Linked DNA regions of Homo sapiens. The protein of the gene in region 1 purifies or fractionates together with the protein of each later gene. This does not show direct contact. Each region holds a gene or a part of one and is shown in the gene's direction. Other genes may lie near its edges. The genes, in order: PRRC2B, PLOD1 and ZER1.

Region 1 (10,861 bases):
TGGCAAAACCCCATCTCTACCTAAAATACAAAAAGTTAGCTGGGTGCGATGGCACACGCTATGTAGGAGGCTGAGGCATGAGAATCATTTGAACGCATTGTGGGCGGGGGGCCGAGGTTGCAGTGAGCCGAGATTGCTCCACTGCACTCCAGCCTGGGCAACAGAGCGAGACGCTGTCTAAAAAAAAAAAAAAATCATTATTAAAATTAATTTCATCAACTTTTACTTTTACTTTTTTTTTTTTTTTTTTTAGATGGAGATTCCCTCTTGTTGCCCAGGCTGGAGTGCAGTGGTGCAATCTTGGCTTACTGCTACCTCCACCTCCCAGGTTCAAGCAATTCTCCTGCCTCAGCCTCCCGAGTAGCTGGGATTACAGGCATACACCACCACACCCATCTAATTTTTTGTATTTCGTAGAGATGGGGTTTCACCATGTTGGTCAGGCTGGTCTTGAACTCCCAACCTCAGGTGATCCGCGCACCTCGGACTCCCAAAGTGCTGGGATTACAGACGTGTGCCACCACGCCCAGCACTTTTTTTCTTTTCTTTTCTTTTGAGACAGAGTCTTGCTCTGTCACCAGGCTGGAGTGCAGTGGCGCGATCTTGGCTCACTGCAACCTCCGCCTCCTGGGTTCAAGTGATTCACCTGCCTCATCCTCCTGAATAGCTAGGACTACAGGCACACGCCACTATGCTCAGCTAATTTTTGTATTTTTAATAGAGACAGGGTTTCACCATGTTGGCCAGGATGGTCTCGATCTCTTGACCTCGTGATCCGCCCTCCTTGGACTTCCAAAGTGCTGGGATTACCGCACCTGGCCCCTCCTTTTACCTTTTTTTTTTTTTTTTTTGAGACGGAGTCTCGCTCCGTTGCCCAGGCTGGAGTGCAGTGGCATGATCTTGGCTCACTGCAACCTCCCCCTCCCGGATTCAACCAATTCTCCTGCCTCGTCCTTCCAAGTAGCTGGGACTACAAGTGCATGCCGCCACTCCTGGCAAATTTTTTGTATTTTAGTAGAGATGGGGGTTTCACCATGTTGCCCAGGCTGGTCTCGAACTCCTGAGCTCAGGCAATCCACCCACCTTGGCCTCCCAAAGTGCTGGGATTACAGGTGTGAGCCACTGCGCCTGGCTCCTTTCAATTTTTTTTTTTTTTTTTTTTGAGACAGAGTTTCGCTCTTGTTGCCCAAGCGGGAATGCAGTGCTGGGATCACGGCTTACCACAACCTCCGCTTCCCTGGTGAATCAAGCGATTCTCCTGCCTCAGCCTCCCAAGTAACTGGGATTACAGGCATGCGCCACCATGCCTGGCTCAGTTTTTGTATTTTTAGTAGAGATGGGGTTTCTCCATGTTGGTCAGGCTGGTCTCACACTCCCAACCTCAGGCAATCCGCCCACCTTGGCCTCCCAAAGTGCTAGGATCACATGCATGAGCCACTGTGCCTGGCTGGGCAAGTCACTGAACTTTCTGATGCTCTATTTTCTCGACTGTTAAGTGCAGGTATTCAAAACACCAGGTATGTTTTCTTCCTCTGACACCTTGCTGGATGCTTTGTCCCCATAGTGGTGACAGTAGGGGAAGGGAGGCTGGGCACCCACCTCCAGGCTTGCTGAGGTTTGGAGGCTTTAGTGCATGTGCTTATTTGGCTGGTTTTGTGAGCCGTGTGTTTTGTGTGGTTGGTCAGGAGCCATGATTTTGGCCTCAGTTGTCCAGGCATCCACTTTTCAACCACCATGGAGATTGAGTGCTTACTTTGTGCCAAGCTCTCTTCTCTGCTTGGGGATCCCAGCTGGAGAGACACCACAGTGCTCCCCACCCAATTTTCGCAGGTAGAAACTCTTAGGCACCAAAAGGCTAGCTCTGCTGGTTGGAGACAGAACCAGAACTAAAACCTCGGAACATGGTTGTTTTTTTTTTTGTTTTTTTTTTTTTTGAGATGGAGTCCTGTTTTGTCGCCAAGCTGGAGTGCAGTGGCGATCTTGGCTCACTGCAACCTCCAACTCTTGGGTTCAAGCGATTCTCCTGCCTCAGCCTCCCGAGCGATTACAGGTGCCCGCCACCACGCCTGGCTAGTTTTTGTATTTTTGGTAGAGACAGGGTTTCACCGTGTTGGCCAGGATGGTCTTGATCTCCTGACCTCGTGGTCCTCCCGCCTTGGCTTCCCAAAGTGCTGGGATTACAGGCGTGAGCCACTGCGTCTGGCCTGTGTTTGTTTTATTGACTGTAGTGGCCCTTCTCTGCCCAGTTCAACAGCATGGCCCCAGAGCCTGGCACAGTGAGCACCAGAGTGCAGGTGCCCAGTGAATGAACGGACGAACTTTGATTCCCAGGGCTCTCCTCTGGGCTAAGCACTTTGCAGGGATGGATGACTGCATGCCATTCTCTCCATGAGGATGGTCAGGGAGGTAGGAGATGGCTGAGCTGGATTTGAAGCCAGGTCTCTTCTCTCCCAAGACTCCTAGCTTGCCTTTTTTTTTTTTTTTTTTTTTTTTGAGACAGAGTCTTGCTCTGTCGCCCAGGCTGGAGTGCAGTGGTGTGATCTCAGCTCAGTGCAAGCTCTGCCTCCCAGGTTCATGCCATTGTCCTGCCTCAGCCTCCCGAGTAGCTGGGACTATAGGCGCCCGCCACCACGCCTGGCTAATTTTTTGTATTTTTAGTAGAGATGGGGTTTCACCATGTTAGCCAGGATGGTCTCGATCTCTTGACCTCGTGACCCACCTGCCTCGGCCTCCCAAAGTGCTGGGATTACAGGCGTGAGCCACTGTGCCCTAGCTTTTTTTTTTTTTTTTTTTTTTTGATACAGAGTCTCGCTCTGTCGCCCAGGCTATAGTGCAATGGTGCAATCTCGGCTCACTGCAACCTCCACCTCCCAGGTTCAAGCAGTTCTCCTGCCTCAGCTTCTTGAGTAGCTGGGATTACAGGCACATACCACCAGGCCTGGCTAATTTTTGTATTTTTAGTAGAGACAGGGTTTCACCATGTTGGTCAGGCTGGTCTCGAACGCCTGACCAAGTGATCTGCCCACCTCAGCCTCCCAAAGTCCTGGGATTACAGGCTTGAGCCACTGTGTCTGGCCCTAGCTTGCCTTTTAACCCTTCCCTCGCTGTGTTGCCTTCAGCAAGTCTCCAAGGTTGTACTAGTTTTCTATTGCTACATTACCACACATTTAGTGGCTTATGTAACTTTGTTATCTTAAAGTTCTGGAGGTCACGGTGGTTGGCAGGGCTCATTTTCTTCTGGAGGCTTTAGGGGAGAATCCATTCCTTGTCCTTTGTAGCTTCTAGAGGCAGCCTGCATTTCTGGGCGTGAGGTCCTGCGTCATTCCTTTGTCAGTCAATATGATGAACTCCGCTTCATCAACCACATCTTCTCCGACTCCGACCCTCCTTCCTTCCTCTTGTGAGGACCCTTGTGATTCCACCTGCCCAACCAAATAATCCAGGATTCATCTCTGCATCTCAAGATCCTTAACTTCATCCCATCTACAGAATCCCTTTTGCCAGAGAAGGTACCATTTTCACAGATTTCAGGGATCAGGACTTGGACATCTTTGGTGGGGGGCATTGTATTGCCTCCACAAAGTCTACTTTTCTTCTCTGTTGGATGGGCACACTAGTGTCTGTTTTATGGGTATGTCGTGAGGATTACCTGAGTGACTCTATAGGGAGTGTTTAGCACAGTGGCTGTCACATAGTAAGTGCTCAGTAAACCACCCTGTTACTGTTCAGCCTCCTCCTATCATTTTGTTTTGAGACAGAGTCTCTCTCTGTTGCCCAGGCTGGAGTGAAGTGGCGTGCTCTTGGCTCACTGCAACCTCCACCTCCTGGGTTCAAGTGATTCTTGTGCCTCAGCCTCCCGAGTAGCTGGGATTACAGGACCCCACCACCATGCCCGGCTAATTTTTGTATTTTTAGTAGAGACGGGGTTTCACCATGTTGGCCAGACTGGTCTCAAACTCCTGACCTCAGGTGATCTGCCTGCCTCGGCCTCCCAAAGTGGTGGGATTACAGGGGTGAGCCACCACGCTTGGCCTTACAAATAAAGAATCTGAGGCTTCAGATAGTTTATTTCTTTTTTGCTTGTTTATTTTCTTTCTTTTTTTTTTTTTGAGATGGAGTCTCACTCTGTCACCCAGGCTGGAGTGCAGTGGCATGATCTCGGCTCAGTGCAACCTCCGCCACCCGGGTTTGAGCAATTCTTCTGCCTCAGCCTCCCAAGTAGCTGGGATTACAGGCGACTGCCACCATGCCTGGCTAATTTTTGTATTTTTAGTAGAGATGGGGTTTCACCATATTGGTCAGGCTGGTCTTGAACTCCTGACCGCATGATCCACCTGCCTCGACCTACCAAAGTGGTGGGATTACAGGTGTTAGCCACTGCGCCAGCCTTACAGATGAAGAACCTGAGGCTCAGTTTATTTATTTAATTTATTTTTTATTTGTTTATTTGCCTTCTATCATTTTTATTAGTTGCTGGGTTTTGAGCACTGGGCCAATTCTATGGCCTTCCTGAAGATGGTCAAGGAACAAAATCGAAAACAAAAATTAGGGTTACATCCTCCCTGTTTTGTAGAGATAGCGAAATATTGAAGACATTGGCAGGGGAATAATGCAGATTTGATGATGTAAAACAGAGTGGCCGGCACTGTAATCCCAACACTTTGGGAGGCCAAGGTAGGTGGATCACTTTAGCGCAGGAGTTCCAGACCAACTTGGCCAACATGGTGAAATCCCATCTCTACCAAAAATACAAAAATTAGCTGGGCATGGTGGCAGATGTCTGTAATCCCAGCTACTCAGGAGGCTGGGGCAGGAGAATCGCTTGAATCTAGGAGTTGGAGGTTGCAGTGAGCAGAGATTGCGGATTGTGCCACTGCACTCCAGCCTGGGGGACAGAGCGAGACTGTCTCAAAAAAAAAAAAAAAGAAAAAAGAAAAAAAGGATAACACTGAAAATGACCATGGATAAAATGTAGGAAAATTCAGAGAATTATAAATAAGGCTATAAAAGTATCCAGAATTCTACTCCCCAAAAACTAAGCTTTGTTCACCAGCCTCAGTTCTGGAGTTAGGCTGAAGTGGGTTAATTTTCCTTCTGGGTCCAGCAGTGTGGCCTGGGGCACATTCTCTCAAAGCCTCCTTTGTCTCACCTGTGAATTAGAACAATAATATCTGCCCCTGGGTTAGGATTAAGTGAGACAAACCACGTGCTTTAGCATAGGGCATGGCCCGCAGCTGGTGCTTAGAGCAACCGTGACTGGAAGAGGGTGGGATGATTTGGGTGCCAGGCCCTAACATTTTTTTTTTGTATTTGCTTTTTGAAATTGCTTTTATAGTTGGTTAGGTGTCTAAAAAAGTAAGAACCCTCCTCCGCTCTCCCAACCTCAAACCACGGAGGTAACCAAGACAGGAGTGCAGTCTCCCGGACCTTTTGTTTTGCAATCACACAAACACACAACACTCAAGAGGAGGGGCTTATTAGTTTTCATTTTGTAAAAATGGGACAAAGTACCCATATTGTGCAACAACCTTGCTTTTGAAATGAAAAAAGTATTATTTCTGCTTCCTTTCCGTTCATATACCGTATACATATTTTAACAAAATCCGGGCTTAGTCTGTTCTGAGGCGCTGCAGTTTTGAAGGGGGAGGGGGCGGAGATCCGGGCTCGCTCCCCCGTCACTGCCCCCTCCATCCCTTCCCCCTCTTTCCGGGCGCCCTTCCCCCGGGCCCAGGCCGGGCCCATGCCCTTCCCAGGCCCCTTCTCTTGGCTCCTGGCCCCTCCTCCGGGTCTCCTCCCCGATCCCCGCTCTGCCCCGTTCTCTCCCGCCTCTCCCGCCGTCCCCGGGCCCCTCCCCACTCCCAGCCCCCTCCCAGCCCCCTCCCGCCGCTCCCCGCCCCTCCCCCCTGGCCCCAGCCCTCGCCCGGCCCCCGGGCCGATCCCAAGGCCGCCGCTCCCGGGAGGCGCGGCAGGGGGCGCTGCGCGGGCCCAGGTTGCGGGCGGCGGCGGGAGGAGGAGGACGAGGAGGCGGGGGCGGCGGCAGGCGGGGGGCGGGGAGCCGAGCGCGAGGGAGCGAGCGGCGAGACAGGCGCCGAGGCTCCACCGCGCAGCGACGAGCGAGCCCGGGAGGAGGGAGGGAGCGAGCGAGCGAGCAGCCCGCGCCGCCGCCTCGCAATCCGCCGCCATCCCGCCGCCCCCGTGCCCGACCGCCGCCCGACTGCCATCGCCCGGCCCGGCCGCGCCCGCGGAACCAGACCAGGTGGGTCGGGGCCGGGGCCGGGGCCGGGGCGTGGGGGCGGCGGCGCTAAGATGGAGGCGGCGCGGCCCGGCCGGGCTTTGTCTCCCGCGGCCGCCGCCGGGGGCCCGGGGGCCCTGCGGCCCTGCCCGACCTTTGTCCGCGAGCGCGGCCGCCGCCGCCTCCTTCCCGCCGGGCGCGGGGCTGCGGGGCTGGGAGGCCGCGGGGCCTGGGGGCGGCGGGCCCGGGCGCGCTCGCCATTGTTGTGGCGGCGCCGCGCGGCCTCAGGCTCGGGCGGGGTCCAGGGGCCGCGCGACTCCCTCAGGGCTCGCCCGCCACCCCCGTACCCCCGAGGCCGGGCCGGGCTGCAGAGGCCGGAGGGGCGGGGGTCCCGGGCCCGCAGCCGGGTCTCGGGGTTCTGGGGCCGGCGTCTTTGCTCCCCGCCCCGCCCAATTGACGGAGCAGCGCGCCCGAGGCGGGATCCTGCGGGGTCGGGCCTTGGGTCCGGGGCGCTGAGCGGCGTTCGCGGGGCCGTTCCTGGCGCGGGGTGGGCCGGGCCCCGGCGGCGCTAAAGTTGGCGGCTGGGGGAGGGAGGCGAGCGGCCGCCCAGTCTCGGTGTGAGTGCGGGAACCAGAGGGTTATTTTCGAAATGCTGAATGCTCCATGCTAAAAATGTTTAATAATAAACAGGATGTCGCCACTCGGGGCCTGCCAGATGGGGTTTTTTTTTTTTTCCTCCTCTTTTGCCTCCCCTCAACCCCCAGGAGAGAAATTCAGCCCTGTTGAAACTGTGGGCCTCTGAAGAGTGGATTTGCCTTAAGAGGTGGATTTTTTTCCTTTTTCTTTTTTCCTCCTTCTAAATATCGTGGGAGGTCGGAGCCCACCTTTAGGCAAGAATTGGAGGTGTTTTCAGTGGTGAGCTTGAAGGAAGTGGGAGAAGGGGGGCTGGGGAGTGTCTTTTGCTAAATGGCTTCCTGGGAGAAATCTTTAAATGCCTTTGGTTTACAGGACTGTTAAACTTTCCCTAAGATTTTTTTTTTCTTTAAGGTTTAGTGTGCATTTGATGTGGCTTTGTACAGTGTCATCCAGTTTGGTTTTTGTAACCAATTGTGTGCGGTCTTAGCATGGTTTTTCCGAATCTCGCTGCAGCCATTTAGTCATGTCTATGCACAGCGCTGTGGTGTAAGGTGGGACTGGGGAGGCCCAGGCATTGGGGTGCAGATCCTGCTTCTTTCTTCCGTAAACCTAGTGACTCTGGGGCTGTCTGAGGCTTCATCTGCATAAATCGGGGCGTGCACCCTCCACCTGGCAGGTTTGGGCAGCGGTGAAGGGCCTAGCAGAGGGCCTGGCACAGTTAGTGGTTCCTCCTACGGTTGTTGGTATAACTGCTGTCAAGTCCTAGGACAGACGTGAGCCCCTTGTGGTGCCACCCATAGAGCCAAACTGTGCCCATGGATGCCACAGGTGCTGGCCTAAGGCATGGACAATACAGAAGGAATTCAAGGCCCAAACATTAGTGGGCGCTTATACAGTGCTGAGCCTCTCGGGAGGCAGGGATGGGAAAAAGTAGCATTTGGAGGTCTCTAGAACTTAGTAGACCCGGAGTGTGTGGCAGTTGGTCAGTTTAAGGCAGGGTTAGAACAGTACGAGATGCTCAGGACAAACAGACGCCCAAGGAGTCCTGCCTTCTGAGGATAACTGCTTTCCTTGGGGATTGGCAGATAATCATCTGAGAGTGAGTTTCTACTTGTTTGGGCAAGTGTGTCTCTTGGAGCCTGCGCAGCTGGATTCTGGTCCTCATCGGGTTACCTTTACAAAGCAAGTCTCTGAGGCTCAGATCTTGCATCTGTAAAATGGGAATAATTATGCCTGCCTTGGGTATCTATTAGGGCTCTTGGGAGCCTCACTTAAGATTCACAGTGAATTGTTTTCTCTCCATAGGAAGGTGATGAAATGTATGTGTTTGTTGATTATCTGTTTTTCTGGTTCCTTTCTCCTTCCTTCCTCCCTTGCCCTCTTCCTCTCTCCCTCCCTCCCTTTCCCTTCCTTTTCCTTCCTTCCCTTCCTTCTTTTTTCTTTTCTTTTCTTTTTTTTTTTTTTTTTTTTGAGACAGTCTCACTCTGTCGCCCAGGCTGGAGTGCAGTGATGTGATCTCAGCTCACTGCAACCTCCGCCTCCTGGGTTCAAGCGATTCTCGTGCCTCAGCCTCTGGAGTAGCTGGGATTACAGGCATGTGCCACCACACCTGGCCAATTTTTGTGTTTTTAGTAGAGACAGGGTTTCACCATGTTGGCCAGGCTAGTCTCAGACATCCGACTTCAGGTGATTTGCCTGCCTTGGCCTCCCAAAGTGCTGGGATTACAGGCCTGAGCTACCGCGCCCGGTCTTCTTTCTCTTAATGCTTATTTTTTCCTCTTCTCTTGGTTGATGGAACTGTGACTTCCCCACCCCAAATTCTATGGCCGGCTAATGTTTTGCTATGGTGACTATCACCCATCTACCTGGAAGCACCAGAATGGCTTAGTACAGCTAGGGAGCTCAGCCAGATCTCGGTGTCTGCTGTTTGAGATTGTGTGGAAGGACTATTGCTAAGAAGCAGGAGACAGACTGAACCCAGTGTTGGCCACAAGTGAGGACTGAGACCCAGGTCACCTCTTGGCTGAACATGTTAGCTTGTTGGTAAATGGCTCTGCAGTGGTTCTGCATTTTATTGGGGAATTTGTTTTGGTTCATTTTGGCATTCCCGCAACCATCTTGTTGGTTTTTTGGTAAAATGTGGCACCCCCTCCAGACCTCCTAGCTGTGGAACTGAGATATTTTAGCAGGGTCCTGTCATCCTTTGATTTTTCCTCGCTTCCTGCCTCTTGGCCCTTCCTTTTTGTCTGACTTCACTCGGGCCCAGTCTGGCTCTATACTGTTAACTGGTTAGTTAGGCCAGGAGATAGTCGCTGCCTCTCCCATGAGCTTCTGCATACCTGTGAATTTTGGTTATCTGTGGCCCCCTAATGCTGATTGCATGCCCTTGCCTTAGGCCCTAAGCCCACTGTGTGGGCGTCCCATCTCGTACAGTGGCCGTCTCCAGCCTCCACTGGGCCCAAATAGGTAAAAAGAAAGCCTGGGGAAGGAAGAGCCAGGAAACCTCGGGAGAGTGGAATTTCAGGAATGGCAGGTCAGAACTGGTTCCAGCATGGGTCCCTTTGCCTTGTGCTTAGCTGAGGGATTTTTGTTATTAATTTTTTTTTTCCTGTTCAACACTCCTAACCTCTTTTGAATTTCAGTTCTCTTTTTTTATCCTGAAGGATTATTTTATTGTACTTTTGAGGGTTTTTTTTTTTTTTTTTTTTTGCCTTGCACAAAGTACTGACTCATGTTGCTAATGGCTGTGGCTGTATGCTAGTTATATGTCTCATTATCCTACCCCTTAAGATTGATCATTTCTGTGTTGGTTTCTATTTCAAACCAGAATAGGCCAGGTGGGTCAATTCATGTATTTCTGAATTCAATAATGAGGCTTCCCTACCGTGAAATGTACATATCTTGTCATGGGCGGACAGGTACTAAATAGAGCCTATCTATACTAGATTTTAAAACAATGGATTTCTCCCCAAAAAACAACATTTCCAGCAGACAATGGGCTTTGTGCTCCAAATCTTGTAATTTTGGTTTTAAATAAATTTCATGTAAGGAGGCAGGGCTAACTAGACTGTCTTCTTTTCAGATCATAACTTGATCTCTTTTTAAGATTATTTCTGGGACTTGTACAGCCTCAGGAAACTTGGGTCTGTCATTGGGACAAAGAAATACAGGCACTGGCTGTGGTGTTGGAGATGGGAGCGACATGGGATATGGTGAGCTTTGTTTCTGGTGAAATAGAATTGTTTGTCATTAGCTTTAGGTTTAAAAGGTGCCATTCAGACTGGACCTCCTCACCTGGGAGCTGGCAGACCTGGGCCTTGCCATTGGCGATATTACTGTTTATACCTCTGGGTGGCACGTGGGAAATCTCTTTTGTGCTGGGAGGTAGGTTTGTCTTAGTGTCTTGAGCCAGAAGTTGTGGTTGAGCTTTGTTCTCAGCTGTACTTGTTGGTTTTCTGTGTGACCTGAGAAGCATCCTTCGTCCGAGCTGAAGTGCACCTCCGAGGTGCTGGCAGCAGCACTGATTTGTGAAGCATTGCGTGCAGCAGGAGTAGCTGGCAGAACAAAGCCTATCTCAAGTTGCTGGCGGTCTTTCACATCTTGTACAGGACTTCCTTCCGTTCTTACCTCTGCAGCCAGTTGTGTGGCTTCCGTCTGGACCGTCTTCCTCCTTTCCAAGATAACCATCAGTCTTTTTCTCTGTGGGGCTGCAGCAGCAGTATTTATTGCATTTTTAATTGACTTGTCAGGCAATAGATACTCCTTGAGCACCTATCATTTGCCAGGCATTGTACAAGGCCCTTTAAATACATTTTTCTTGTGGTAGGGCAAGGTGGCTCATGCCTGTAATCCCAGTACTTGGGGAGGCCAAGGCAGGTGGATTGCTTGAGGCCAGGTTAAGACCAGCCTGGGCAATGTGATGAAAATAAAAAAATGCCTCTTAAAAGAAAAAATTAGTAGGGTATAGTGGCGCATGCCTGTAGTTCTAACTAC
Region 2 (7,343 bases), on another chromosome or scaffold:
CCGACTATTGACATCCACATGAACCAGATCGGCTTTGAGCGGGAGTGGCACAAATTCCTGCTGGAGTACATTGCGCCCATGACGGAGAAGCTCTACCCCGGCTACTACACCAGGGTGGGCAAGCCTGGGGCATAGCCAGGATGCGGGGACAGTTGGGTGGGGTGTCAGTGGAGTGGCTGGGACTGGTGGGGGTAGGGTGGGAGGTGGAGAAACTGGGAGGGGCCGAGGTGGAGTGAGGGTGTGGGGAGCGTGGGAGGGGCAAGGGTGGGGCATGAGGTAGAGGGACTGAGGGGTGGGGATGGGGTTGGGAAGAGCAGGGGTGGGGTGGGAAGTGGTAGAGAAGCTGGGAGGGGTGGAGAGGAGTAGGGAGCCTGGGAGGGGCAGGGGTGAGTGGGAGTGGAAAGCCTAGAGGGGCGGGGGGGCAGGGGTGAGGGAGTGGAGAGACTGGAAGGGGCAGGAGTTGGTGGGGAGGTCGAGGCCAGTGTGGGGCAGGGGGATGGGGTGGGAGGGGTAGGGTGGAGTGGGGGGCTTGGGTGGAAGGGCCAGGGGTGGGTGGGGGCTGGAGAGTCTGGCAAGGGGAGGGGCTGGGGAAGGGGTTGGGTTGGAGTACGGGTGGAGGAACATCCCAGCTTATGGGAGAGGCCTGGATATTTGGTCCCCAGGCAGGAGTGAGGTCTCACCGCACACACCCCCTCCATCTAGTAGCGTGTGGGAAGACAGGGTGCTGGGCTGGGACTCTAGGGCCGGCTAGTTGGCCTCTAGCCTGAGCTGGAGTCTCACTCAGCCTCATGAGTAGCTGGGATTACAGGCACCTGCCACCATGCCTGGCTAATTTTTGTATTTTTTGTAGAGACAGGGTTTCACCATGTTGGCCAGGCTGGTCTCAAATTCCTGACCTCAAGTAATCCGCCCACCTCTGCCTCCAAAAGTGCTGGGATTACAGGCATGAGCCACCGTGCCTGGCCGACCTCAGCTCTTTTGAATCTTTCTTCCTTGTCATTAACCCTGCCTCAGTGGCTCCTATACCAGCCCACCAAAAAAGCACCCCTGCCCACCTTAGCTGGCCAGCGTGCCCACTCCCTCCCTAGCCACAAGCCTGTGCCCCACGCCTGGGCCCTGCTTCGTCCGAAGCAGCCTTCTTCCAATAGTGAGGAAAACCCTGAACTCCTGTTACTGACAGTTGTCATTCATCCCTTGAATGCTTACTGTGGTTCCCCGGAAACAATTACCTGGCTGGCCTCGGTTAATTCTCACAATTCTTTCCAGTGCTATCACTCATGTGTCTGTCCACTGCTACCTTGGCTTTCTCCAAGGTACTTTCTCCAAGACTCAGTTCCTTCCTTGGTCTCTGGTTTCTCCAGATACCTGCCCATGGCGTGCCTGGGTCCTGCCTCAGGGAATCCAGCCTGGATAGTTGCCAGAAAGGGTTGTGAGGATTGGATGCCCCCCTTTGTCTTTGTCTTTTCATTCATTCCTTCGTTCCTTTCTTCCCTTCCTTCCTTCCTTCCTCTCTCTCTCTCTCTCTCTTTCTTTCTCTCTCTCTTTCTCTTTCTCTGTCTCTTTTTCTTTCTTTTCTTTCGCACTTGTCACCCAGGCTGGAGTGCAGTGGCGCAATCTTGGCTCACTACAATCTCCGCCTCCCAGATTCAAGCGATTCTCCGGCCTCAGCCTCCCAAGTAGCTGCGATTACAGACGCCCACCACCATGTCTGGCTAATTTTTTGTAATTTCAGTAGAGATGGGGTTTCACCATGTTGGCCAGGCTGGTCTCAAACTCCTGACCTCAGGTGATCCGCCCACCTTGGCCTCCCAAAGTGCTGGAATTACAGGCGTGAGTACCATGTCCGGCCTCCTTCCCTTTCATTTCTTCTCTTCCCTTTCATTTCTTCTCTTCCCTTTTCCTCCCTTCCTCCCTCCCTCCCTTCCTTTCTTCCTTCCCCTCTGTTCTCTTCCTTCCCTCCCTCTCTCCCCTCTGTCCATACATTTTTGTTGAGAACCTTTTCTGTGCCAGGTAGTTGCAGGCACTCGAGCATAGAGCCCCATGTAGACCTGGCCCCTGTAAGCTGACCTGCAGCAGGCCAGACCAGGCCCCATGTGTGCACCCTCCTCTCCTGGCCTTTGTGTCCTCCTTAACTAACACGGGCTCTCTTGTCCCCCTGCCTTGGTACAGGCCCAGTTTGACCTGGCCTTTGTCGTCCGCTACAAGCCTGATGAGCAGCCCTCACTGATGCCACACCATGATGCCTCCACCTTCACCATCAACATCGCCCTGAACCGAGTCGGGGTGGATTACGAGGTGAGCAGGAGCCAGCCGGGGTCAAGGGGCCGGCAATGGGGATGAGGAGGGCTAGCTGAGGAGAGGCTTCAGGGTGGTTGAGGCAGAGGGGCCCCAGGTAACCAGTGCCAGAGAACCAGAAAAAAAAGGATGTGGGTCTGTGGGAGGGCTTCCTGGAAGGGTTCACAGTCTAGCAGGAGGAGGGGCCAGGCTCTTAAGCTACTATTTTAAGAGATTTTTGGGCTCGGCATGGTGGCTGATGCCTGCAATCCCAGCAGTTTGGGAGGCCAAGGCAGGCAGATCACTTGGGGCCAGGAGTTTGAGACCAGCCTGGCCAACATGGCGAAACCCCATTTCCACTAAAAATAGAAAAATTAGCTGGGCGTGGTAGCACACACCTGTAATCTTAGCTACCCAGAAGGCTGAGGCATGAGAATCTCTTGAACCCAAGAGGTGGAGGTTGCAGTGAGCTGAGATCATGCCACTGCACTCCAGCCTGGGCAACAGAGCGAGACTCTGTCTCCAAAAAAAACAAAAAGAGGTTTTTTGAACTTAGCCCTGGGCTGGGTGCTGTGGAGAACACTCATAAAAACAGCTATAATCCTTTTTTTTTTCTTTTTCGAGACAGGGTCTTGCTCTGTCACCCAGGCTGGAGTGTAGTGGCATGATCACAGTTCACTGCAGCCTCAACCTCCTGGGCCCAAGCAATCCTCCCACCTCAGCCCCCCCAAGTAGTTGGGACCACAGGCGTGTGCCACCATGGCCAGCTAATTTTTTTTCTTGCTTTTAGAGATGGGGTTTCACTATGTTGCCCAGGCTGGAGCTATAATTTTTTGAGAGCTTACAACAAACATATCAGGCATCCCTAATCCAAGGATTCTCAACCAGGAGCAACTGTGGCCTGCAAGGGACATTGGCAGTACCTGGAGACATAATTGGTTTTTACAACTATGAGGGGCTACTGGCATCTAGTGGGTAGAAGTCAGAGATGCCCGGGACAGCCTTCCACAGCAAAGTGTCTATAGTGGTGAGGTTGGGAAGCTTGATCCTCAGCTCTCAATTGTAACATCTCATTTAATTCTCACTATCCTGTTCTGTTTAACCCTCATTTTACAGAAGGGGAAACTGAAGCTCAGGTTGGTCACAGTTAGTAAAGAGTGGAGGTGATGTCTGCCCAGGGCTGCCTGACTCCAAGGACAGAGCTCTTGATCACTTACTCTTTGGGTTTTTTTTTTTTTGAGACAGTCTCATTCTGTTGCCCAGGCTGGAGTACAGTGGCGCGATCTCGGCTCACTGCCTCCTGGGTTCAAGTGATTCTGTCTCAGCTTCCCGAATAGCTGGGATTACAGGCGTGCGCTGCTACACCCAGCTGGTTTTTGTATTTTTAGTAGAGATGGGGTCTCACCATGTTGGCCATGCTGGTCTTGAACTCCTGACCTCAGGTGGTCCACCCGCCTTGGCCTGCCAAAGTGCTGGGATTACAGGCGTGAGCCACCACTCCTGGCCACTACTCTTCATTTAGTGTCTTCCTTAGCAGCGCTTGTGGCTGTCACTCCAGAAGGCATCCCCAGGCAGGCAGTGCTGAGGGCCACTTGGCCATGACAGGAGATCATGACGGGAGAACAGACGGGCAGGGGGGCGGTGGGGAAAGGCCACTGATGCTTTCTGTCTCCCAGGGCGGGGGCTGTCGGTTCCTGCGCTACAACTGTTCCATCCGAGCCCCAAGGAAGGGCTGGACCCTCATGCACCCTGGACGACTCACGCATTACCATGAGGGGCTCCCCACCACCAGGGGCACCCGCTACATCGCAGTCTCCTTCGTCGATCCCTAATTGGCCAGGCCTGACCCTCTTGGACCTTTCTTCTTTGCCGACAACCACTGCCCAGCAGCCTCTGGGACCTCGGGGTCCCAGGGAACCCAGTCCAGCCTCCTGGCTGTTGACTTCCCATTGCTCTTGGAGCCACCAATCAAAGAGATTCAAAGAGATTCCTGCAGGCCAGAGGCGGAACACACCTTTATGGCTGGGGCTCTCCGTGGTGTTCTGGACCCAGCCCCTGGAGACACCATTCACTTTTACTGCTTTGTAGTGACTCGTGCTCTCCAACCTGTCTTCCTGAAAAACCAAGGCCCCCTTCCCCCACCTCTTCCATGGGGTGAGACTTGAGCAGAACAGGGGCTTCCCCAAGTTGCCCAGAAAGACTGTCTGGGTGAGAAGCCATGGCCAGAGCTTCTCCCAGGCACAGGTGTTGCACCAGGGACTTCTGCTTCAAGTTTTGGGGTAAAGACACCTGGATCAGACTCCAAGGGCTGCCCTGAGTCTGGGACTTCTGCCTCCATGGCTGGTCATGAGAGCAAACCGTAGTCCCCTGGAGACAGCGACTCCAGAGAACCTCTTGGGAGACAGAAGAGGCATCTGTGCACAGCTCGATCTTCTACTTGCCTGTGGGGAGGGGAGTGACAGGTCCACACACCACACTGGGTCACCCTGTCCTGGATGCCTCTGAAGAGAGGGACAGACCGTCAGAAACTGGAGAGTTTCTATTAAAGGTCATTTAAACCACTGAAGGGAAGATGCTCAGGGCGAGTGGGTGTGTGTGTGTCTTGGTGTGAGTGTCTGCAGGGAGAGAGGTTTTAAGAGCCCTCTTTTTTTTTTTTTTTCTTTTTTTGAGACAGAGTCTCACTCTGTCTTCCAGGCTGGAGTGCAATGACGCTATCCCCGCTTTCTGCAACCCCCGCCTCCTGGGTTCAAGTAATTCTCCTGCCTCAGCCTTCCGAGCAGCTGGGGCTACAGGCACCCATCACCACGCCTGGCTAATTTTTGTTTTTTTATTAAAGAAAGGGTTTCACCAGGTTGGTCTGGCTGGTCTTGAACTCCTGACCTCAGATGATCCACCCACCTCGGCCTCCCAAAGTGCTGGGATTACAGGCATGAGCCACCGTGCCCGGCCAAGAGCCCTCTTTTTAGAGCCTTTAAGAAAGGTCATGCTAGCCTCTCGACCCCTGAGTAGCTGGGATTATAGGTATCCATGCCTGACACATTTTTGTATTTTTTGTAGAAACGGGGTTTCATTTCACCGTGTTGGCCAGGCTGGTCTCGAACTCCTGACCTCAGGTGATCCATCCGCCTCGGCCTCCCAAAGTACTGGATTACAGGCGTGAGCCACCATCCCAGGCCTGAAAGTCTTTTAAAAAAGATTTTTGAGGCCAGGCACAGTGGCTCACACCTGTAATCCCAGCACTTAGGCTGAGGCAGGCGGATTACCTGAGGTCAGGAGTTTGAGACCAGCCTGGGCAACGTGGCGAAACCCTGTCTCTACTAATAATATGAAAAAATCAGCCGGTTGTGTTGGCATGCGCCTGTAATCCCAGCTACTCGGGAGGCTGAGGCAGGAGAATCGCTTGAACCCAGGTGGTGGAGGTTGCAATGAGCCAAGATTGGGCCACTGCACTCCAGTCTGGGTGACAGAGCAAGACTCCATCTCAATTAAAAAAAAAAAAAGATTTTTTAGTCTTTTCATTTTCAAAATTGACTCATTGTAAATTCAAACAGCACAAATCTTAATCTTTCTGTCATCCTTTCCCCCCAGCTGCTCAGTTCCTCTCTCTGAAAGCCACCATGTCTAATCTGTTTTTTGAACGTTCTTGAGCTGGTTTGTGCCGACACAAGCCTGTGTGTGTGTTTGTGTATGTTAGGGTTATTTTTGTTTTTGTTTTTGAGATGGAGTCTCACTCTGTCGCCCAGGCTGGAGTGCAATGGCATGATCTCGGCTCACTGCAACCTCTGCCTCCCGGGTTCAAGCAATTCTCGTGCCTCAGCTTCCCGAGTAGCTGGGATTACAGGCACCCGCCACCACGCCCAGCTAGTTTTTGTATTTTTAGTAGATATGAGGTTTCACCATGTTGGCCACGGTGGTCTCCAACTCCTGACCTCAGATGATCCACCTGCCTCGGCCTCCCAAAGTGCTGGCATTACAGGTGTGAGCCACTGTGCCCGGCATAGGGTTGTTTTTAACTGTTAACTTTTTTCTGATTACAAACTCATCTTCACCATGAAAAAGTCAAACAAAATAGGTAACATGGGGGGCCGGATGCTGTGGCTCACATCTGTAATCCCAGTACTTTGGGAGGCTGAGGCGGGTGGATCACTTGTGGTCAAGAGTTTGAGACCAGCCTGGCCAACATGGCAAAACCCCCATCTCTACAAAAAAATACAAAAATTAGCCAGGTGTGGTGGCAGGTGCCTGTAATCCCAGCTACTTGGGAGGCTGAGCTGGGAGAATCACTTGAACCTGGGAGGTGGAGGTTGCAGTGAGCCAAGATTGCACCACTACACTCCAGCGTGGGTGACAGAGCAATAACCTGTCAACAACAACAACAACAAAAAGTAATATGGACCGGGTGCAGTGGCTCATGCCTGTAATCCCAGCGCTTTGGGAGGCTGAGGTGGTAGGATCACTTGAGGCCAGGAATTCTCAACCAGCATGGCCAACATGGCAAAACCCTGTCTCTATTAAAAATACAAAAATAAGGTGGGCTTTATGGCACATGCCTGTAAACCCAACTACTCAGGAGGCTGCAGCACGAGAATCGCTTGAACCCGGGAGGCAGAGGTTGTAGTGAGTTGAGATTGTGCCACTGCACTCCAGCCTGGGTGAGAGAGCAAGACTCTTGTCTTAAAAAAAAAAACAAAAACGTAAGAAAGAAAGGTCTCCTGGAGTTGTACATCAGTGTGCTCTGCACCCATTCCCAATAACACTCAGCACTGCTAGGAGAGTTTTGTCATCCCGAGGGTTGAAACGAGGATTCAGCCATCTCAATGAGAAACACATGTTAATGGGTTGAAACATATCTCCAAACTGAGATTTCCTCTACTTGCTGGGCAAGTATGCAGATGTGTTTCAGAGATAAAGCCCAGCTGCTGGGCAGAGTACAAGACTAAATGCCTGGGAATGGATTCAGAGGTTCCTACAGCAGTCCAGGCAAGTGACCAGGACCTAGACCAATGCTTGCAGGGAAATTTAGGGAAGAGGAGGGAGTGGGCAGGGGAGATGTTTAGGAGAGAGAACAT
Region 3 (11,022 bases), 2.6 Mb from region 1:
GGCTGCTCTTTGACCGAAAGAGCCCAAGATTTCCAGTCTTTGCCTGTGTTTGTCAGTCCATTCGTTTTGTTTTGTTTTGTTTTTCTTTAAATAGAGATGGGGTCTCACTATGTTACCCAAGCTGGTCTCGAACTCCTGGGCTCAAGTGATCCGCCCGCTCCAGCCTCCAAAAGTGCTGGAAATACAGGCATGAGCCACCGCGCTCAGCTAGTGCATTTGATTTTTAAGGGGGAGGGGAATGGAATGTCTGATGTCTTGGGAAAATCCTTCCATATATGATCTTTCACAGAATGTTTCTCTTCAGACTTCAAACTGGTTAGGATGAGCATAAAAGCATAGCCTTGAAAAGGGTCACGGGAGGCTATACTTAGAGCAGAAAGTGGTGGCCAGGGGTGAAGGGCCTCGCTACTTTGGTTCATTTGTTCATTCAGCAAATAATAAACATGATATGTAAGGAGGTAATAAGTGGTTTGGAGAAAAATAGAGAAGGAAGGACCATGGGGAAGGAGTTGGGAGTTGTCATTTTATAGAGGGTGTTCAGGGAAGGTCTCTAGTAAGGTGACCTTTGAGCAGAGATAAGTGAGGGAGCAAGCCAGGTAGTTCTCTTGTGGCAGAGCATTCCGCAGCAAATGCAAAGGTCCTGTGGTCATATGCCTGGTGATTTGAAGAAACAGCATAAGGGCTCACGCTTGTAATCCCAGCACTTTGGGAGGCTGAGGCAGCCGGATCACCTGAGGTCAGGAGTTCAAGACCAGCCTGGCCGACATGGTGAAACCCCATCTCTACTAAAAGTACCAAAAAAAAAATTAGCTGGCCGTGGTGGCTCATGTCTGTAATCCAAGTTACTCAGGAGGCTGAGGCAGGAGAATTATTTGAACCTGAGAGGTGGAGGTTGCAGTGAGCCGAGATTGTGCCCATTGCATTCCAGCCTGGGTGACAAGAGTGAGACTCTGTCTCAAAAAAAAGAAAGAAACAGTGGGAGGATGGGGGACTGGAGCAGGTTGAAGAAAGGGAAGAGTGGTTGGCAAGAAAGTCAGAGAACAGTGGGGACCAGAAAAAGGTGGGGAAGACATCAGGGGCTGTCCTTGTGATACAGGGTCACAGGGTGTCTAATGGGACACCCTTTCAGAACCGTACTTGTTGAAGTGTCTGGTGGTTGGAGAAAATACAGATTTGTTTTAGATGACAAATGGCCATTGTGCTTGGGGCTTCGGTTGTAAGTACCCTTCTTCCATCTTTGTAATGACCATTGATGGAACAAATACAAAGAATCATGGTCACAGAGAACTGCGATTAAATCAAGTTAAGTTATGCCGCTGCTTCCTGGTTGTGAGAAGGTGGGCACGGGACCTTTTTCCACCTCAATCTTCTCATCTGGAAAATACAGCAGGCTGGGTGTGGTGGCTCACACCTGTAATCCCAGCACTTTGGGAGGCAGGTGGATCACCTGAGGTCAGGAGTTCGAGACCAGCCTGGCCAACATGGTGAAACCCCATCTCTACTAAAAATACAAAAATTAGCCGGGTGTGGTGACGCATGCCTGTAATCTCAGCTACTGGAGAGGCTGAGGCAGGAGAATCGCTTGAACCTGGGAGGTGGAGGTTGAAGTGAGCTGAGATCATGCCACTGCAGCACTCCAGCCTGGGCGACAGGAGCGAAACTCCATCTCAAAAAAAAAAAAAGAAAGAAAGAAAAGAAAAGAAAATAGGGCTGTTGGATTAGATAAAATCATGGGCTGAAGTGCTTAATGCAGTATTTCACACAAAGTGCTCAATACATAGCGGTCACGCTGATGAGGATGATGTGATGATGAGGAATGTGGGCATGTATGTCTGCCTCAGAGCCGTTCGTTTTAGCACTAGCTGGTGGTGTCACCAGCTCTAGCTGCCTCCATCAACTAGTAGGATTTGAGGAAATATTGGGGAAAGCAAGACAGAAACTTCTTGACACCCCTCAGAGGTAACTGGGTTAATATTCTGCAGAGAAGACGTTAGCTTGGTCCTGGCTTTTCTGACAGCAGCGGAGGGTGATGGGGACTTTTAAAAAAGAGCCCAGCACTGCCAGCGCTTTGGGAGGATCGCTTGAGGCCAGGAGTTTGAGACCAGTCTGGAGAACATAGGGAAACCCTATCTCTAAAAAAAAAAGAATTAAAATGAGCCCAGCAAATTTCCATTCTACCACGTAAAATAGGCAAAATGAGGGTGTTGAAATGAATGTGACTTGGAGACAGGTGGGGAGGGGCAGTGTATGCTGGGCCTAGATATGTGGTTGGAGTGTGCGTGGCTGATCTACGGGTAGAGGCTGGTGATCCGGAAGTGCCCGGCAGAGGCTGAGACTTTCCAGCCTGCTTTATAGGAAGCAGAACCACAGTTGATCTCCCTCCTTATACCCCAAGCCCGGACTATATCCTCAGGCCTGGGACACAGGCTGAGCAGGGCAACTGGGCCAGAGAATTTGAAAATGAAAGGTCAGAGCACTTAGGAGCTGAGAGCCAGCATGTTGGGGTAGGCTGTTGTGGGTAGAACCCCAGGCTGGTGACCTGCGGACCTGGTTCAAATCCCGGCTCTGCTGTTGGCTTGCTGTGTGAGTTAGGCAGGTTCCATCTCCTCTCTGGGCCTCAGTTTTCCTATTTGTAGATTAAGAATAATGGCCTTCCCTTGCCTCCGACTAACTCTAAAGGCTGTTGGGAGGATGAAATGAGACACAGCTTGTGAAAGAATTAGGTGTGTTCTGAAGCTCTCTACAAAGGTATTATCATTAGTACCACTAGGATTATGCAGACACGTTTTGGGGGCCCACTAGCTGGAAGACTGCTCTTGGCACTCTGGTTTTTTTGCTTGGCTTCAGTACCTCATCTGTTCTGGAGTCCTGAGAGGTGAGTGCAGAGACCCCTGTCTGGTTATCTATTTGTGGACCACTGTCTTATATCTGGCGCAATCGCTGAAACTGATTTTCCAGCTTCAGAGATGCAGAAGGGTCTCTTGAAGCATTATTCTCAGGAACATCACTCTTCATAATTATTGGTTACCACCTTCCTGCCATCCTTTCATGGCATCTCCTCAGCAACCCTGTTCACAACACGCGCAACACAGCGTGTGCCACTCGCAACATGCTGACAGGTAAGGACCTTGATAAATATTGAGGCTGGAAAACATTGGCTGGGGATCTTGTGGAGCCGAGGCCCTGTCACTGGCATTGAGCCACTCACATACTCTGTAATGGAGACCCCAGAAATCACATAGGGTCCCTGCCCTCAGGAAGCTTTCAATGCTGTGGCCAAAAAATGACATGCCACGGAGTGGTTACCAGCAGTACTGGATCATGTGAGCTCAGTGCCTGAGTTGTAAGGAAGCGGCGGAGGCTCGTGGAACAGAAGGGAAAGCTGAGGTTGGAGAAATGGTCCCTCCCCATAGCATAATGGCAAGGGGCTCGAACTTTAGGGTCACACACTTACCGGAGGAACAACTCATTGCTCATCTTTCAACCATTGTTTCCTTATCTGGGAAACAAAATGATAATGTATTATCATATTGATAAAATGTTATCTGTGGCAGCTGGGTGCGGTGGCTCACACCTGTAATCCAGCACTTTGGGAGGCTGAGGTGGGCGTATTGCTTGAGCCCAGGAGTTTGAGACAAGCCTGGGCAACATGGTGAGCCCTCATCGCTACAAAAAATAAAAAAATTAGCCAGGTCTGTTGGTATACGTCTGTAGTCACAGCTACTCCAGAGGCTGAGGTGGGAGATTGCTTGAACGTGAGAGGTGGAGGTTGCAGCGAGCTGAGATCGTACCACTGCACTCCAGCCTGGGTGACAGAGTGAGACCCTGTCTCTTAAAAGAAAAATAAATAAATAGGCCGACCGCAGTGGCTCACACCTGTAATCCCAGCACTTTGGGAGGCCGAGGCAGGTGGATCACCTGAGGTCAGGAGTTCGAGACCAGCCTGGCCAACATGGCAAAACCCTGTCTCTACTAAAAATACAAAAATTAGCCTGGCATGGTGGCGGGCACCTGTAATCCCAGCTACTTGGTTGGCTGAGGCAGGAGAATTGCCTGAACCCAGGAGGCAGAGGCTGCAGTGAGCCGAGATTGTGCCATTGCACTCCAGCTTGGGCAACAAGAGCAAAATTCCATCTCAAAAAAAAAAAGAAAGAAAAATAAATAAATAAATAAATAAGTTATCTGTGACTTTGATGCGAACTGCTTGGAAAGCTGGACACACTGGGTCTTTTTTTTTTTTTTTTTTTTTTTGAGACGGAATCTTGCTCTGTCACCCAGGCAGGAGTGCAGTGGTGCAATCTCGGCTCACTGCAACCTCTGCCTCCTAGGTTCAAGCGATTCTCCTGCTTCAGCCTCCTAAGTAGCTGGGATTACAGGCATCCGCCACCATGCCTGGCTAATTTTTGTATTTTTAATAGAGATGGAGTTTCACCATGTTGGCCAGGCTGGGCTCGAACTCCTGACCTCAGGTGATCCACCTGCCTTGGCCTCCCAAAGTGCTGGGATTACAGGCGTAGGCCACTGTGCCCAGCCTGACACACTGCGTCTTGAACTAATGAACTACCTGTGTACATATCTGTCTGTTCAGATCCATAGTCTCTGGCAAATTGCATAGCCATAGCCCCTTCCTTCCAGCTGCCTTTTCTGTAAGTTGTAGATGGTAACTCCTGCCTTGTTGGGTGTTGAGAGAATTCAATTAATTAACACATATAAAATACTTAACAGAGTTCTTTTTTTTTTTTTTTTTTTGAGATGGAATCTTGCTCTGTTGCCAGGCTGGAGTACAGTGGTGCAATCTTGGCTCACTGGAACCTCCACCTCCCGGGTTCAAGCAATTCTCCTGTCTCAGCCTCCTGAGTAGCTGGGACTATAGGCGCCCGCCACCACGCCCTGCTAATTTTTGTATTTTTAGTAGAGACAGGGTTTCACCATGTTGGCCAGGATGGTCTCAATCTCTTCACCTCGTGATCCGCCCGCCTTGGCCTCCCAAAGTGCTGGGATTAGAGGCGTGAGCCTCCACGCCCAGCCAGAATTCTTGGTATATACTTGGTATTCAGTATGGGTAGGATCATTAATACATTTGGTTACAAGAATAGAACCCAACCAGTCTGATTACTAGCCGAATGCAGCCTCCTCAAGGCCTCTCTGTCTCCAGCATCATGAGCAGCCACCTAGCTGTGAGGCACACTCCCCAATTATTGTGTGTCTGCATCTTTCTGACATAACCCAACTCATAGATTTAATCTCTGCAGACTTTTCAGAGCCAGGTGGCGTCTGGTTTTCACCTGTTTCCCGACCACCTGGAGATCCCCACACTTGCTGTGACTCCCCTCACACCCCCAGTCTCTGGCCCTTGATCTGCTGCCTCCTGGAAAGCGTCTAGCCTCTGTAAATAGGGCATTTGTTTGGGTTTTCCCCCCAGCTCCTAGGTTAATATTTCACAGGGTGAGTACTGCTCCAAGGCTCAGAGCTTCTGGCTCCCCCAACCTCTCTGTCCTCTGGGTATCAGGACACTGGTGGGATCCCATGCTCCCACCTCCAGACTTCAGTTTCTCTTTCCCTCCCATTGTTTGGATGGATGGACTGAAGACCAAATATTTGGTGAGAAGCGGGGGTCTGCTTTAGGTTTGCATCCCACTCTCATCAGTTTTGTGATCTCAGGCAAGCTTCTGCTTAGTTGTGTATGCGTCAGTATCTTCATCAGAAAATGGGGTAATAATCTCTATCTTGCAGTACTAGAGTAAGGGAATTCCAGCCACAGCAAACCTTTGTTCTATTAAACACCAGGCATAAATTGGGCACCGAAGTCAGACACCAAGGATACAGGTGCGTGCGCGCTTGCGCACGTGTGTGTGTGTGTGTGTGTGTGTGTGTGTGTGTGTGTACATGTGCATGGATGCAGGCATGCAAGCAAGCATACAGCTTCTGTCCTCCCAGAGCTCACAGGCAGTAGGAGGGTGTCAGTTGACAAATTGTTATGTAAATGATTAATTAGTTGCAAGTACAGGGTACTAGGAAATATTTTGTCGGTTGAGTAAGAGACTCGAGGGAGTAAAGCCTGTAAGGAGCTTAGGACCACATCTGGAAGCAGCCAACATGGACGTGGTATGGCGGTGCCTTCTGCTGCTGCTGCTGCTGGTGCTGTTTTTCTCTCTCTTCTCTCCCACTTCCTTCATTCCCCAGGATGTCGAATGTTCATGATAGACCTAGTATTAGAGAACATGCAAGAAAAGGGATGGAGAAAGACACAGGGTTCTCCCAGTGTGGTGGTCGGTCATAACCAGAGCTCCCTCTGTCCTCAGTTGCTGGAATTCCAGATGGCCTGTGACTGCCCTGAGAATGACAATCCCTAAGGAATGGAGTAGGTAGAGTGGAGTAGGTAGAGATGGCTGCCTCTGGCAGGTGCCAGGCCCGCAGCTGGATGGGTCTCAGGGCATGGTAGCCCCGGGGCCCTTCAGTCTCTGTGCCAGGATGTAAGATGGCTGCTTCCTCTTCCAGCTCATTCCAGCCCTGAGTGGCAAGGTCAACACTGCTAAGGGGAGGCTAGCAGATGGCGCCATCTACCTGGCTTATGTTTTGGGGGCTTTTGGTGACCGTGACAACTGACGTGGTGGTGTTTCTTCCACTTGGGGAGCATGGTAAGGGCAGAGCAGCTGCCTAGGTAACTGGGCTCAGACCTGCAGAAAAGGCAAAACCCCAGTGGCTCTCCCTCATTCAGAGCCTCCGAGCCAAGAGGCATCATTTGCAGCCACTGGGCGCCCAGCAGTGTCCTGAGTGCAGCAAGCAGGGAGAATGCGAGAGTGTACTATACCTCCCAGGCCTCGTGCAGACCTCTGATGGCGAGTACTTTGTCATTCCTTCCACAGGCCTTTGTTGAAACCTCACCTTGTGGCAGGCCCCACATTGAGTGTTCAGTGCTTCCTTTGTTCATTTAGCAAATAGTCATGGACCTGGGCCCGTAGTGCCAACGTCCCATGCACCCCCTCTCCTTGCAGCTTAGGTACTTCTTTGCTTCCTCCCAAAGCGCCTTCCCCTTCTCTCCCCTCCACCAGAGTTAACTAGGACTTATCTTTTGGGTCCCAGCTGAAATGTCACTTCTTTTTTTTTTTTTGATGGAGTTTTGCTCTTATTGCCCAGGCTAGAGTGCAATGGTGTGATCTTGGCTCACTGCAACCTCCGCCTCCCGGGTTCAAGCAATTCTCCTGCCTCAGCCTCCCGAGTAGCTGGGATTACAGGCGTGCGCCACCAGCCCAGCTTATTTTTGTATTTTTAGTAGAGACGGAGTTTCACCATGTTGGCCAGGCTGGTCTCGAACTCCTGACCTCAGGTGATCCACCTACCTCAGTCTCCCAAAGTTTTGGGATTACAGGTGTGAGCCACTGCACCTGGCCTGAAATGTCACTTCTAAGGATACCTGCTCTGACTCCCCAGTCCAGGGCAAGTCCCCTGATTGGGCATCCAGAGCCCCAGGCCCCTTCTCCTGCAAGACACTGGTCCCAGTTACGCGACAGGCGCTTATGGGCCCTGTAGGTGGATCTGTCTCCCTCCGGAGCCAGTACGCTCCATGTGGTCAAGGACCTTGTCCGGCTCGCTCACCAAGGACCCCCAGTGCTCAGCAGGGACTGAGTGAGCAGGTCCAGGGAGGTGATACCAAACAAGACAGCCTGGTTTTGCCCTCATGGACCTGGCCATCCATCAAGGATGCTGAATCATCAAAGCCACATCGTACCAAGTGTTCATTGCTGTGGTAGATCGGGCCTGTGGGGGGACTCAGCAGGCACACCCTGGTGGGTTAAGCATGGCTTCCCAGAGGAAGTAACTTTGACACTGGGACCATAGGTATCAGCTACGTGAAAGGAGAGTTCAAAGATCATGTGGGCTGGAGTGGCCAGGAGATACTTCCTGGAGGAAGGACATGGAGTGTATTTGGGTAGGGGAGGGGAGAAGGCAGTATTTAAATTAGAAAGTGCAGTAATTAGTTGAATTTGGATGGTCCTGGTTGAAAGAGAACAGACTGGGCAAAGGTCTGAAGGTGACCTGTGCCGAGGGCCTTTTGCCAGGACAGTGAATGATGAGGCCAGGCTGGCTGGAGTAGGGGGGCAGTGGGGACCAAGTAGGCCAGAAAGCTGGCTGTAATTCCGGTGGGCTTGAAAAGAGTTGCTTTCCAAGAGTGGGGACTCTCTGCCAGCAGTGCTCCCTCTGGTTCCAGTTTCCCAGGCAAGAGAGGCTGCTGGGCTCTTAAAGATCTTGAAGCAAATGAAGGCAAAGGAAGGCCATGCCCGGGGCCCAGGCATCCTGGCTTTTGTGCCTTCCCTCGAGGGTGCCATGCTGCCAGTGGGACAGCTGACACAATGAGCCTTGTTGTGGGAGACCCAGGCCGGGGAGCACAGGCCCGGAGCTGGGAGCCAGGGCAGATGAGGTAGGAGAAGGTAATGATTATAACAACAACATAATAACGGTTGTCTTTATTGAGCAATGACTACATGCCAGACACCGTTCTAAGCCCTTTTGATATTATTCCATGGAATCTTCACACCGTGCTGGGGATGAGGTATTGTGCTGCTTCTATTTTAGAGGAAAAGTGACTGAGGCACAGAGAGGTGGAGACACTTGCCCAAGTTTGTCTCCTCGTGAGCAGCAAGGCTGAAATGTGAGCTATGCCTGCCTGAATCCACAGCCCATCCACACACAGTCCCCAGTAGACAGTGGTGCCACAGTTGAACTCAGAACTGGCTGATTCCAAAGCCCAGTGTGCCCTGTGGCTTCCCGCTGGATTTCCTGAGCAGTCTGGAAGGTTTACAAATGGGCACAGAGGGAGGCTCCCAGAAGCTGGGACAATGCTGGGCCCCAGAACTCCAGAACCCTCTAAGTCAGGGGTGTCCAATCTTTTAGCTTCCCTGGGCCACACTGGAAAAGGAACTGTCTTGGGCGACACGTAAAATACACCAACACTAACAACAGCAGATGAGCTAAAAAAAAAAAAAAGTCCATAAATGTCATAATGTTTTAAGAAAGTTTACAAATTTGTGTTGGGCTGCATTCAAAGCTGTCCTGGGCCACATGCAGCCCATGGACCACAGGTTGGACAAGCTTGCTCTAAGAGATGTGAGGGATTCCACGAGACCAGGTTCCAGTCTAGTTTACACAGCTCCCTCTGTTTGACCTTGAGTTTCCTCCTCTATAAGATGGGGTCAGCCGGGCGCGGTGGCTCACGCCTGTAATCCCAACATTTTGGGAGGCTGAGGCGGGCGGATCACAAGGTCAGGAGTTCGAGACCATCCTGGCTAACATGGTGAAACCCCATCTCTACTAAAAATACAAAAAATTAGCCGAGCGTGGTCGCAGGCGCCTGTAGTCCCAGCTACTTGGGAGGCTGAGGCAAGAGAATGGCATGAACCCAGGAGGCGGAGCTTGCAGTGAGCCGAGATCGTACCACTGTATTCCAGCCTGGGTGACAGAGTGAGACTCTGTCTCAAAAAAAAAAAAAAAAAAACAAATTATGGGGTCATAGGGCTGGACATGGTGGCTCATGACTGTAGTTCCACCATTTTGGGAGGCGAGGCGGGTGGATCACCTGAGCTCAGGAGTTCGAGACCAGCCTGGCTAACATAGCAAAACCCCGTCTCTACTAAAAATACAAAAATTAGCCGGGTGTAGGGGCAGGTGCCTGTAGTCCCAGGTACTCAGGAAGCTGAGGCAGGAGAATAACTTGAACCTGGAAAGCAGAGGTTGCAGTGAGCTGAGATGGTGCCGCTGCACTCCAGCCTGGGTGACAGAGCAAGACTCTGAAAAAAGAAAAAAAAGGTGGGGTCATAACCACCATGTTGTGTACTTAGTCTGTTGGGCTGGGACTAAGCATTTCTTCAACATTATCTCATTTAGTACCACAGCCCTGTGAAGTAGAGATTATTATCCCCCCCTCCCTTTTTTTTTTTTTTTGAGACAGAGTCTGGCTCTGTCGCCCAGGCTGGAGTGCAGTGGCGCGATCTCGGCTCACTGCAAGCTCCGCCTCCCGGGTTCACACCATTCTTCTACCTCAGCCTCCCGAGTAGCTGGGACTATAGGTGCCCACCACCACGCCCAGCTAATTTTTTGTATTTTTAGTAGAGACAGGTTTCACTGTGTTAGCCAGGATGGTCTTGATCTCCTGACCTCATGATTCGCCTGCCTCGGCCTCCCAAAGTGCTGGGATTACAGGCGTGAGCCACCGCGCCTGGCCTATTATCCCCATTTTTCAGATGAGGAAACTGAGGTCTGGAGAGGTTAAGTAACTTTTTTTTTTTTTAAACGGAGTCTCGCTGTGTCGCCAGGCTGGAGTGCAGTGTCACCAGGCTGGAGTGCAGTGGCGCAATCTTGGCTCGCTGCAACCTCCGCCTCCCAGGTTCAAGTGATTCTCCTCCCTCAGCCTCTTGAGTAGCTGGGATTACAGGTGTGCACCACAACACCCAGCTTTTTTTTTTGTATTTTGGTAGAGACGGGGTTTCACTATGTTGGCCTCAATGGAGAGGTTAAGTAATTTTACAGTGAATTGTATAACTGGGTCAAAACATAGATCTGTCTGACCACAGAGCCTGCACTTAAAAGAAAACTTTTGGGGCTGGGTGCGGTGGCTCACGCCTGTAATCCCAGCACTTTGGGAGGCCGAGGCAGGCGGATCACAAGGTCAGGAGATTGAGACCATCCTGGCTAACACGGTTAAACCCCATCTCTACCAAAAATACAAAATATTAGCCGGGCGTGGTGGCACACGCCTGTAGTCTCAGCTACTCGGGAGGCTGGGGCAGGAGAATCGCTTGAACCTGGGAGGCAGAGGTTGCAGTGAGCTGAGATTGCCCCACTGCACTCCAGCCTGGGTGACAGAACAAGACTCCGTCTCAAAAAAATAAAAAACTTTTATGAAGTATAACATACATGAGAGACCAGGCACAGTGGCTCACGCCTGCAATCCCAGCATTTTGGAAGGCCAAGATGGGAGGATCGCTTGAGCCCAGGAGTTCGAGACCAACCTGGGCAACACAGAAA

Evidence for each region.
Region 2: the proteins of PRRC2B (region 1) and PLOD1 purify together in Homo sapiens (affinity purification with mass spectrometry; 2 studies listed by BioGRID and IntAct, with this or other methods). This does not show direct contact.
Region 3: the proteins of PRRC2B (region 1) and ZER1 purify together in Homo sapiens (affinity purification with mass spectrometry; 2 studies listed by BioGRID and IntAct, with this or other methods). This does not show direct contact.

What each region holds. Positions count from the first base shown.
Region 1 is NC_000009.12:131,388,008-131,398,868, forward strand, and holds the start of PRRC2B (protein PRRC2B), read left to right. Parts: upstream 1-6,078; 5' UTR 6,079-6,256; intron 6,257-10,861.
Region 2 is NC_000001.11:11,970,703-11,978,045, forward strand, and holds the end of PLOD1 (procollagen-lysine,2-oxoglutarate 5-dioxygenase 1 isoform 2 precursor), read left to right. Parts: coding exon 1-114; intron 115-2,169; coding exon 2,170-2,295; intron 2,296-3,950; coding exon 3,951-4,106; 3' UTR 4,107-4,835; downstream 4,836-7,343. UniProt on the Homo sapiens protein: Part of a complex composed of PLOD1, P3H3 and P3H4 that catalyzes hydroxylation of lysine residues in collagen alpha chains and is required for normal assembly and cross-linkling of collagen fibrils.
Region 3 is NC_000009.12:128,760,075-128,771,096, reverse strand, and holds part of ZER1 (protein zer-1 homolog), read left to right. Parts: intron 1-11,022. UniProt on the Homo sapiens protein: Serves as substrate adapter subunit in the E3 ubiquitin ligase complex ZYG11B-CUL2-Elongin BC. Acts to target substrates bearing N-terminal degrons for proteasomal degradation with the first four residues of substrates being the key recognition elements.